Linked DNA regions of Homo sapiens. The protein of the gene in region 1 interacts with the protein of each later gene in a biochemical or structural test. Each region holds a gene or a part of one and is shown in the gene's direction. Other genes may lie near its edges.

Region 1 (3,496 bases):
ATTTTGAGTCGCATAGGTGTGTGCGTGTGTGTGCGCATGTATGTGTGCGTGTGTTTGTGTGCACGTGTGTGTGTGTGTGTCTAGAATACTGCTGTCTACGAACACCCTATTCCCATCCATCTGTGTTCCATGGCTCCAACCGGGAGGGTGGGTTCTTGTGTCGGGCATCCAGTAAGTAGAAATAGAGGGCACTGTCCTGTCTAGGCAGCCCCAAGAGAAAAGAAACAGAGGGATGAGCCTGAGTCAAAGTCCCTGAAAAGTACCAAGGACCCCAGAGAATCCCAAACTGTCAACAAGGCCAAAGGTCAGAGGAAGTTCATAGCAGATCAGTCTTACTTTGGACGTGGGTGGAGCAGGAGTGACTGGGATCATGGTCAGCAGAGTCACTGGGACAGGGCAGGAACTGGACAATGGCTGCAGCCTGCGGGCAAGGTGCTTGCCTTTTCTTTCTAAGAGCAGTTCTCAAACGCCAGCAGGGCTGGTTCAAACACAGATGGCTGAGCTTCCAGGCTGGAGTTTCTCATTCACTGGATCTGAGGTTGGGCTGAAGAATGTGCATTTCTAACACGTTCCCAGGTGACGCTGTTGGTCTGGAGACTGCACTTGACAACCACTGGTTTAAAAACACCATTCACGTTATCATTTGAAGGAGGGTAAGACAGCCTTGTAGTACCACACAAGGAGGGCTACATTCTTAGGGGTGTGTAATTACAAGATGACTTAGTCAATTCCATTTTTCATGTGCATGTTTTGCTTTGGCAGCTTGATTATAAAGTCTCTGTAACTCAGGGTCATGATAAACTATTGACTTGAGGAAAGGTTTTCTTCTTGTTCCTGAAGGAGCATAATTACTGATGGAAAGGAAGATGTAGGAAGCTGCTCATCACAATGCTTCTGTTGCAGAGTGTACCACCAAAATCAAGCCCAGGATCGTTGGAGGAACTGCGTCTGTTCGTGGTGAGTGGCCGTGGCAGGTGACCCTGCACACAACCTCACCCACTCAGAGACACCTGTGTGGAGGCTCCATCATTGGAAACCAGTGGATATTAACAGCCGCTCACTGTTTCTATGGGTCAGTACCACGGCTGTTTTTATTAGTTCATCTTCTTCACACATTTATAAAAAATATTACTAGCATGTTAGGAAATAAATACTTTAACCAATTAGATTGTCTTATTTGCAAAATTAATTAATTGCTTCAGTGGTAAAAAACGCAAAAAGGAAGAGCTCATGGTCTCCCAGCATCAGAACAGGTGCAGGTACAAGGCTGCTTGACTGCCTGCTATTCCGCTTCCCATTTAACCGCATTCACATCCCCAAGGGCCTTCATGTTATTCCCTGCAAGAGCATACCTCCCTCTGTGCCTCGCTCTGTGCACTGTGCCCGGAACTAAACTCACAGAGGATTTACCATTGTCTGAATCAAATTTCTAATATGTGTGTGTGTGTGTGTGCGTGTGTGTTTAAATACAGAAAGTGGCCAGGTGTGGTGGTTCACGCCTGTCATCTCAGCACTTTGGGTGGCTGAGGTGGGAGGATTGCTCAATGCCAGGAGTCTGAGGTCAGCCTGGGCAACATAGTGAGACCTCGTCTCTAAAAAATATTTAAAAACTAGCCTGGCATGGTGTTTTGTGTGCCTGTAGCACCAGCTGCTCAGAAGTCTGAGGTAGGAGGATTGCTTGAGCCCAAGAGTTCAAGGGTGCAGTGAGTTACTACAGTGCCACTGTGCTCCAGCCTGAGCAACAGAGCAAGACCCTATCTCTAAGTAAATAAATAAAATACAGAACGAGTTCGGTATGCATCCTCACATTGGATTCCTTACTTAGGTCACTTTCAGCGTTGGCCAAACAAAAAGGCTCCAGCTGGGGGTATATATATTCCAGGGAAGTTAAGTTGGCCAAACTTTCCGTTTGCTACTTCAGTATCCTCCGAGTTGTTTCCAGACACAGTTTTGTGTGCTTTTTAGTTTTGGTTTTCTTTTTTAATCAATCTGCAGCACACTCATGTTAAACTCAAGAACACATGTGAGGCCAAGAGTTCCCGTTACCTGTCACATATGGGAATGGAGTAGCAGAAAGCCTAGTTTCTGTCACAGCTAGTTACTGGCGAGATTGAGACTGAGTCCAGCGGTCTTCGTGTGTGTGTGTGCGTGTGTGTCTGTGCAGTGTGCGTGTGTGTGCGTGTCTGTGTGTGCGTGTGCGGGTGTGTGCGTGTGTGTGTGTTGGAGCACGGAGGGAGTGCTCATTCATTTTTTGTGTATAATGGATTTTCTTTATAGGGTGAATATGTTTTTTATCCCGAAAAATCTTAGGATAAAATCACTTTTTTCTACCTAAATGTCCATCATTGGCAGAAAATATTAGTAATAATTAAACAGCCACACACTTCACAATGTCTGGGAATTATTTTTAGTAAAGGAAATTTCTTTCCCTCTGTTGTTTGCTCCTTAGGGTAGAGTCACCTAAGATTTTGCGTGTCTACAGTGGCATTTTAAATCAATCTGAAATAAAAGAGGACACATCTTTCTTTGGGGTTCAAGAAATAATAATCCATGATCAGTATAAAATGGCAGAAAGCGGGTATGATATTGCCTTGTTGAAACTGGAAACCACAGTGAATTACACAGGTACGGAGAATTTTATCCGGAAAGTTGTCTCCAATGGTGAACTGGATAAAATGTTTAACACTACTAGACTTACGGCCTGACCCTGCCAATCTCTCCATGCGTTATCATCATGAAAGGGAGAGGGCCTGGAATGCTAGTCATTCACTCTGCTAAGGCTGACACACTTTCCTGGCTATTGAAACTTATTTTGGGAATGTGGGTAAAGAGATACGTTTTCCTGAGTCTTCTTCAGGTGCATAGAATGACATAATTTCATAATACTTTGGAATAGTAAAGATAATTTAGTCTAAAGATAATTTATTAAAGATAATTTAGGGATGAAGGATTGAAGGTTAGAACAATTAAGCAACTTGTGCAGGATCAAAGTGAGTTGGATGAGGAGTTAGCGGTGAGGGTGAGGCTTGTCTCTCTCTCGCCCTCTCATCCTGGCACATGTGCGATATCGTGCTGAACCTGAGGGAGGAAAATACACGACAACAAGGCAAAAAATGAATATAGTAAACAAAGAAAACACAGATAATGTACAGTGGAAGAAGAGTCTCTTCTGGAAAAGAGGATATATTTTGCGTCTCATATTTAAACCACGATTTTTTAAATTTAGATTCTCAACGACCCATATGCCTGCCTTCCAAAGGAGATAGAAATGTAATATACACTGATTGCTGGGTGACTGGATGGGGGTACAGAAAACTAAGAGGTAAAAATGATGTTGTTATATGTGCTCCATCCTAGAAATGAAGAGCGGAACCTTTTCTGCCCTGTCAAGTCATGTAGCTGAAGCACAACTCGAGTCACACTACTCAGTTGCAGGAAGCGGATTAATAAAGATGGAGAGGCAAAAATCACCCAAGTGAGGCTGGTGCCTCATATG
Region 2 (4,217 bases), on another chromosome or scaffold:
TGTTTCTGGATATCCTACAGTAGCAATCCCACCTGTTTCTGGATATCCTACAGTAGTGATCCTGCCTGTTTCTGGATATCCTACAGTAGCAATCCCGCCTGTTTCTGGATATCCTACAGTAGTGATCCTGCCTGCTTCTGGATACCCAGAAGTGATCATGCCTGGTTCTAGATACCCAGTAGTGATTGTGTTTCCTCTAGATACCCAGTAGGTATTGTGCTTGCTTCTAGAGATGTAGTAGTAGCTGGACTTAGCTCTAGATACCCAGTGCTCATCTCTAGACTGGGCTGAGATCAGTGTCTCCCTTGAAGGGTTATTGTAAGGATGAAAAAAGATAATGCGTTTAAAGCACTTGGTGTAGTAGGTGGTCTTTTTAAAAGTGTGAATAAATACTAGTTCTTATTATTTCTGTGGATATCCAACAGCCACATAATTGGGCCCCAAAGCCATGAAGAAGGAAGAGGAAATGTCTTAAAGGTTGTCGATGGACAGTGTTTGCTGAACATCAAAATCACTTTCCAGGTATTACCTCTGATTTGCTCTACCAACTCCACACCCCACCTGCAGCCACATAACCTTCCATGATCACGGCCATGCACAACACACCATGTCCCCCAGGCAAGGGGACCTTAGAAACATAACCAGGCTTGAGACAGCACTCTGCACCGGTGTCTTGGAAATGCTCTTAAGAGTGTATGGCTGAGTTAGGGAACCAGGATTTCAAAGTAGAAAGGGAGAATCTACCCAAGCCCATAGAAATCCTGAATCCACTCCTTTCTCAGCAACAAGCACTGGCCTGGGAGTCAGCCACTTATGCACCAACCCCACTCTGCCCCTAATTAAATGCATGACTTTGAAAATTCCCCTCATTCTTCTGAGCCCCAATTCAGTGATTGGTGCAATCACAGGCTTGGCTACAGTGACCCATTCATTGCAGGCATGGTGAGTCTCTCAATCCCTCTCATTTCCACTAGAATCTAACTGTTGGGATCTATGACCCAGTCAGCATAGCAGGCCTGTGGGGAGCTCTCAGGTTCAAGCATATGCCCCCCCTAATCTACAAGAAATTAGCTGCAGAAAACCAAGGAATAGAACCTGGAAAAAGAGAGGGTTTGCTAGAGCTGTCCCTTTCCCTGTCTCTGGAATGCCAACAATAGGGAGGCTCTTTGGTCTTGTCTCTCAGGAGTGCCCATGCCATTCCAGGAAAATGATGGCCCAGCTGGTGGTGTAAGGCTTGGGGGGCAGCGAGTGGGCATCGTGGTGAAAGCCTCGGGATCAGGGAGCTGCGTCTGCAGGCAGGCCTGCTGGCCGGAAACCTGCCAGGAAAGGAAGGGGCTGTCCCGGGGCGGGGCCAGGGAGGGGTGGAGACAGGGCCGGCTGTGGTCAGTGACAAATGCTGGCTGCAATCCAGCCAGCCCTCTGCCCTTTCTGAGCCCGAGGGACTGCCACCTCCACTGTGTGCACACTCAGCTACGGGACACAGTAAGTACCGATGCCGCAAAGGGAGGTCCCCAGGGCTTGAGGGCATGTGAGGCGAGGAGAGGATGGACTCTAGAGTTTTGGGGTTTGGGGTCTGCAAAGCTCTGAAGGAGTCTCATCTCTGCAGTTTCAGGTATCCAAGGCAGCAGAGGTGAGTGGGTCCCCCGAGCTCTGTGACCTTATGCTCCACACTAACTCTGGCAGAGCCTCCGTTTCCTCATAGGTAAGATGGAAATAATTACACCCTCTGGATGGTGTGACTGAAGATTAAATACAGCGGGTGCTCTCACTCAGCACATCTGGCCATGTCTGCAGACACATTTGGTTGCCACAACTGGAAGGGGGGTGGGGGTTAGTGACATCTAGAGGCCAGCGATGCTGCTGATGATCCCACAATGCCCAGGACAAGATCACAAAGCATCATCCTGTTCAAAAGGTCAACAGGATCAAGGTTGAGAGACCCTGAAATAAGGCCATGGGGACAAAATGTCGGCTGGATAGGAGGTGCTCAGTAAGTGGCAGCTTCTGTTGTTTTCTGTGCCTGGAGTCTTGGGCCTTTAGAAATCAGGAACAATGATCCAATATTATCGGCTTCCGTGAGATAAGGGCATCTTGCCTGGAGGCTGCCACCCAGGCCGGTCATGGCAGCTGCTCATGAAGGACAGTAACAATTTGGCAGTTTGTTAAATGAACAAAATGTAGAAATAAAGTAAGCAGAATTTTTAGTTTTTCTGAAGGTAGGGCTTTTGGCCAGATATGCAGCAATAAAAGAGCAAACTGCTTCCTTGGGCCAGTGTCCTTGCTCATAGATCAGGAAACCGAAGCATGAAGAATACAGGCGGCAGATGCCTGAAGGTAACGGACGTGTTCATGGTGCTGACGGTGATGATAAGTGACAGATGTAGACTCATCTCCAAACTTGTCAGGTTATAGACATTAAATATGTGCAACTTTATGAATAGCAGTCATGTCTCAATCAAGTGGTTTTAATAAAGAAATAATAGGAAGCCAGAGCTGAGAGACAGGGAGGGAGTTGTTCAAGGTCACCTGGCAAGTGAGCTCCGGGGCGGGGAGAGCTCAGCTCTGGGTGGCCAGCCTGGCTTTTTCCACTGCTCAGTGTCCAGCTTGCAGTCTAATGTCTCTGAATTACAGAGAAGGAGACTGGTCAGTTCATTCATTCATTCATTCTACAAAGGTTTATGGAGCATCTCTCCTGACTGCAAGCTCTTGAAGGTGAGAGCAGCACAAATGAGGGTCCCATGGAGAGAGAGGCCGGAATGAAAAATGTCAATGACAAATGCATATATAAAGGCACATGTGTAATTGAAAGAGCTTTGAGAGAAAGAGTCAAGGGACTGTTCCAGAGAATAGCCATGGAAGGGGAAAAGGTCCAGTGTGATAAGGTATTGCAAAGAAGTGACATTTAAGCAAAAGCCTGCAGCCTATGCAGAAGTTGGCCTCAGTGAGAAAGGTTGGGGGAGGGTTCCAGTAGAGAGGGAAGGTATGCAAAGGCCCAGAGTTAGGACAGAACTTGCTGTGTTTGAGAAACTGGGAAAAGAAGAGTGAGCCTGGGGGTATCACGTGATCCAGGGCAGAGCAGGTCCAGGCCAGGTGCAGCCAGGTCACAGCAGCCCTAGTGGGTTAGAGCACAAATCAAAGTTTAGCATTTATCTGAAACACAGGAGTTGGCCATGAGTTTCTTAGGCGAGGAAGCGCTGTGACCATATTTATGATTGAAGGAGATTCTTTTATATGCTGTATATAGAAAGCCTTTCAGGGCAAAGAAAGGAAGCTACTGGGGTAGCCCTGGGGGAGATGAAGGGAGCTTCCACTGGGGGCAGTAAGAAAGCCAGGGAAAGGCGGCAGCTTTAAGACCTGTTTTGGAGATAGAACGGACAAGCTTTGCTGATGGGCTGGAGTGGAACAGGAAGTCAAGATTACTTCTTCTGGGAAGTTCTGTTCCTGGGTCTTTAGGATCTAGAGGAAGCTGTGACTTTGTCTCTCATCTCTGCCTGGGCTCCAAGCCTCACATCCCTTTTTGTAATTAGAAGATATTGGACAGACCGTCCTCACTAACACAATTCCCACAGCTGAGTCCAGGGTAGAACTGGGCAGGACTTCACTGCCCAACACGGGAAATATCAGTCAGCAGATTTGGGTTTCGGGGATGGTGGTGGGCCAGCGGGAAGACTGACCAGGGCCTACCCATCACATCCCCACCACCTCCCACCTCAATTCACCTTGGCCTGAGATGACAGGTGAACATGACTGATCCTCTCTCTTCCCTCTGCAGAAACACTAAAGCCAGGGACCAGGAGAGGGGCAGCCCAACCAAGCTTTCAAAGCACTCAGTAGAGGCTGGTCTGGGGGATGGGAGGCTCCCAGGGCTTCACCTGTCTCTGTCAAAGCCATGTATTTCCACCAGAGGCCCAAGAGTGCGATGGCAAACCCTGGATTTGAAACTAAGAAACGTAAAACAAGCACTGAGGACTCCACTGCCTCTTGAGTGACCTCTCTGACCCTCTGTTTCTTCTGCACTGTTAGGATAATGATACTAACTCCATGTTGTTGTAGAGAAGTATAAATGAGCTAATACAGGTGAACCGCCTGGGGATACCAGGAGGTGAGGTCGAGGAGGAACGAGGTATCACTCCTCAGAGCCACTCAGAGACAGGCTGTGCACGAGTCAGAGGAACCTGGATTTTAATTCCGGTTCCATCACTCAGTAGCTGAAACAA

What was found. The genes of interacting proteins can lie anywhere in the genome.
Region 2: the proteins of F11 (region 1) and SERPINA5 form a complex in vitro, tested with the Homo sapiens proteins (one study listed by BioGRID).

The regions. Positions count from the first base shown.
Region 1 is NC_000004.12:186,283,189-186,286,684, forward strand, and holds part of F11 (coagulation factor XI isoform 1 preproprotein), read left to right. Parts: intron 1-903; coding exon 904-1,072; intron 1,073-2,449; coding exon 2,450-2,625; intron 2,626-2,909; exon of another isoform or gene 2,910-3,078; intron 3,079-3,226; coding exon 3,227-3,322; intron 3,323-3,496. UniProt on the Homo sapiens protein: Factor XI triggers the middle phase of the intrinsic pathway of blood coagulation by activating factor IX.
Region 2 is NC_000014.9:94,580,009-94,584,225, forward strand, and holds the start of SERPINA5 (plasma serine protease inhibitor preproprotein), read left to right. Parts: upstream 1-1,417; 5' UTR 1,418-1,482; intron 1,483-1,606; 5' UTR 1,607-1,702; intron 1,703-4,217. UniProt on the Homo sapiens protein: Heparin-dependent serine protease inhibitor acting in body fluids and secretions. Inactivates serine proteases by binding irreversibly to their serine activation site. Involved in the regulation of intravascular and extravascular proteolytic activities.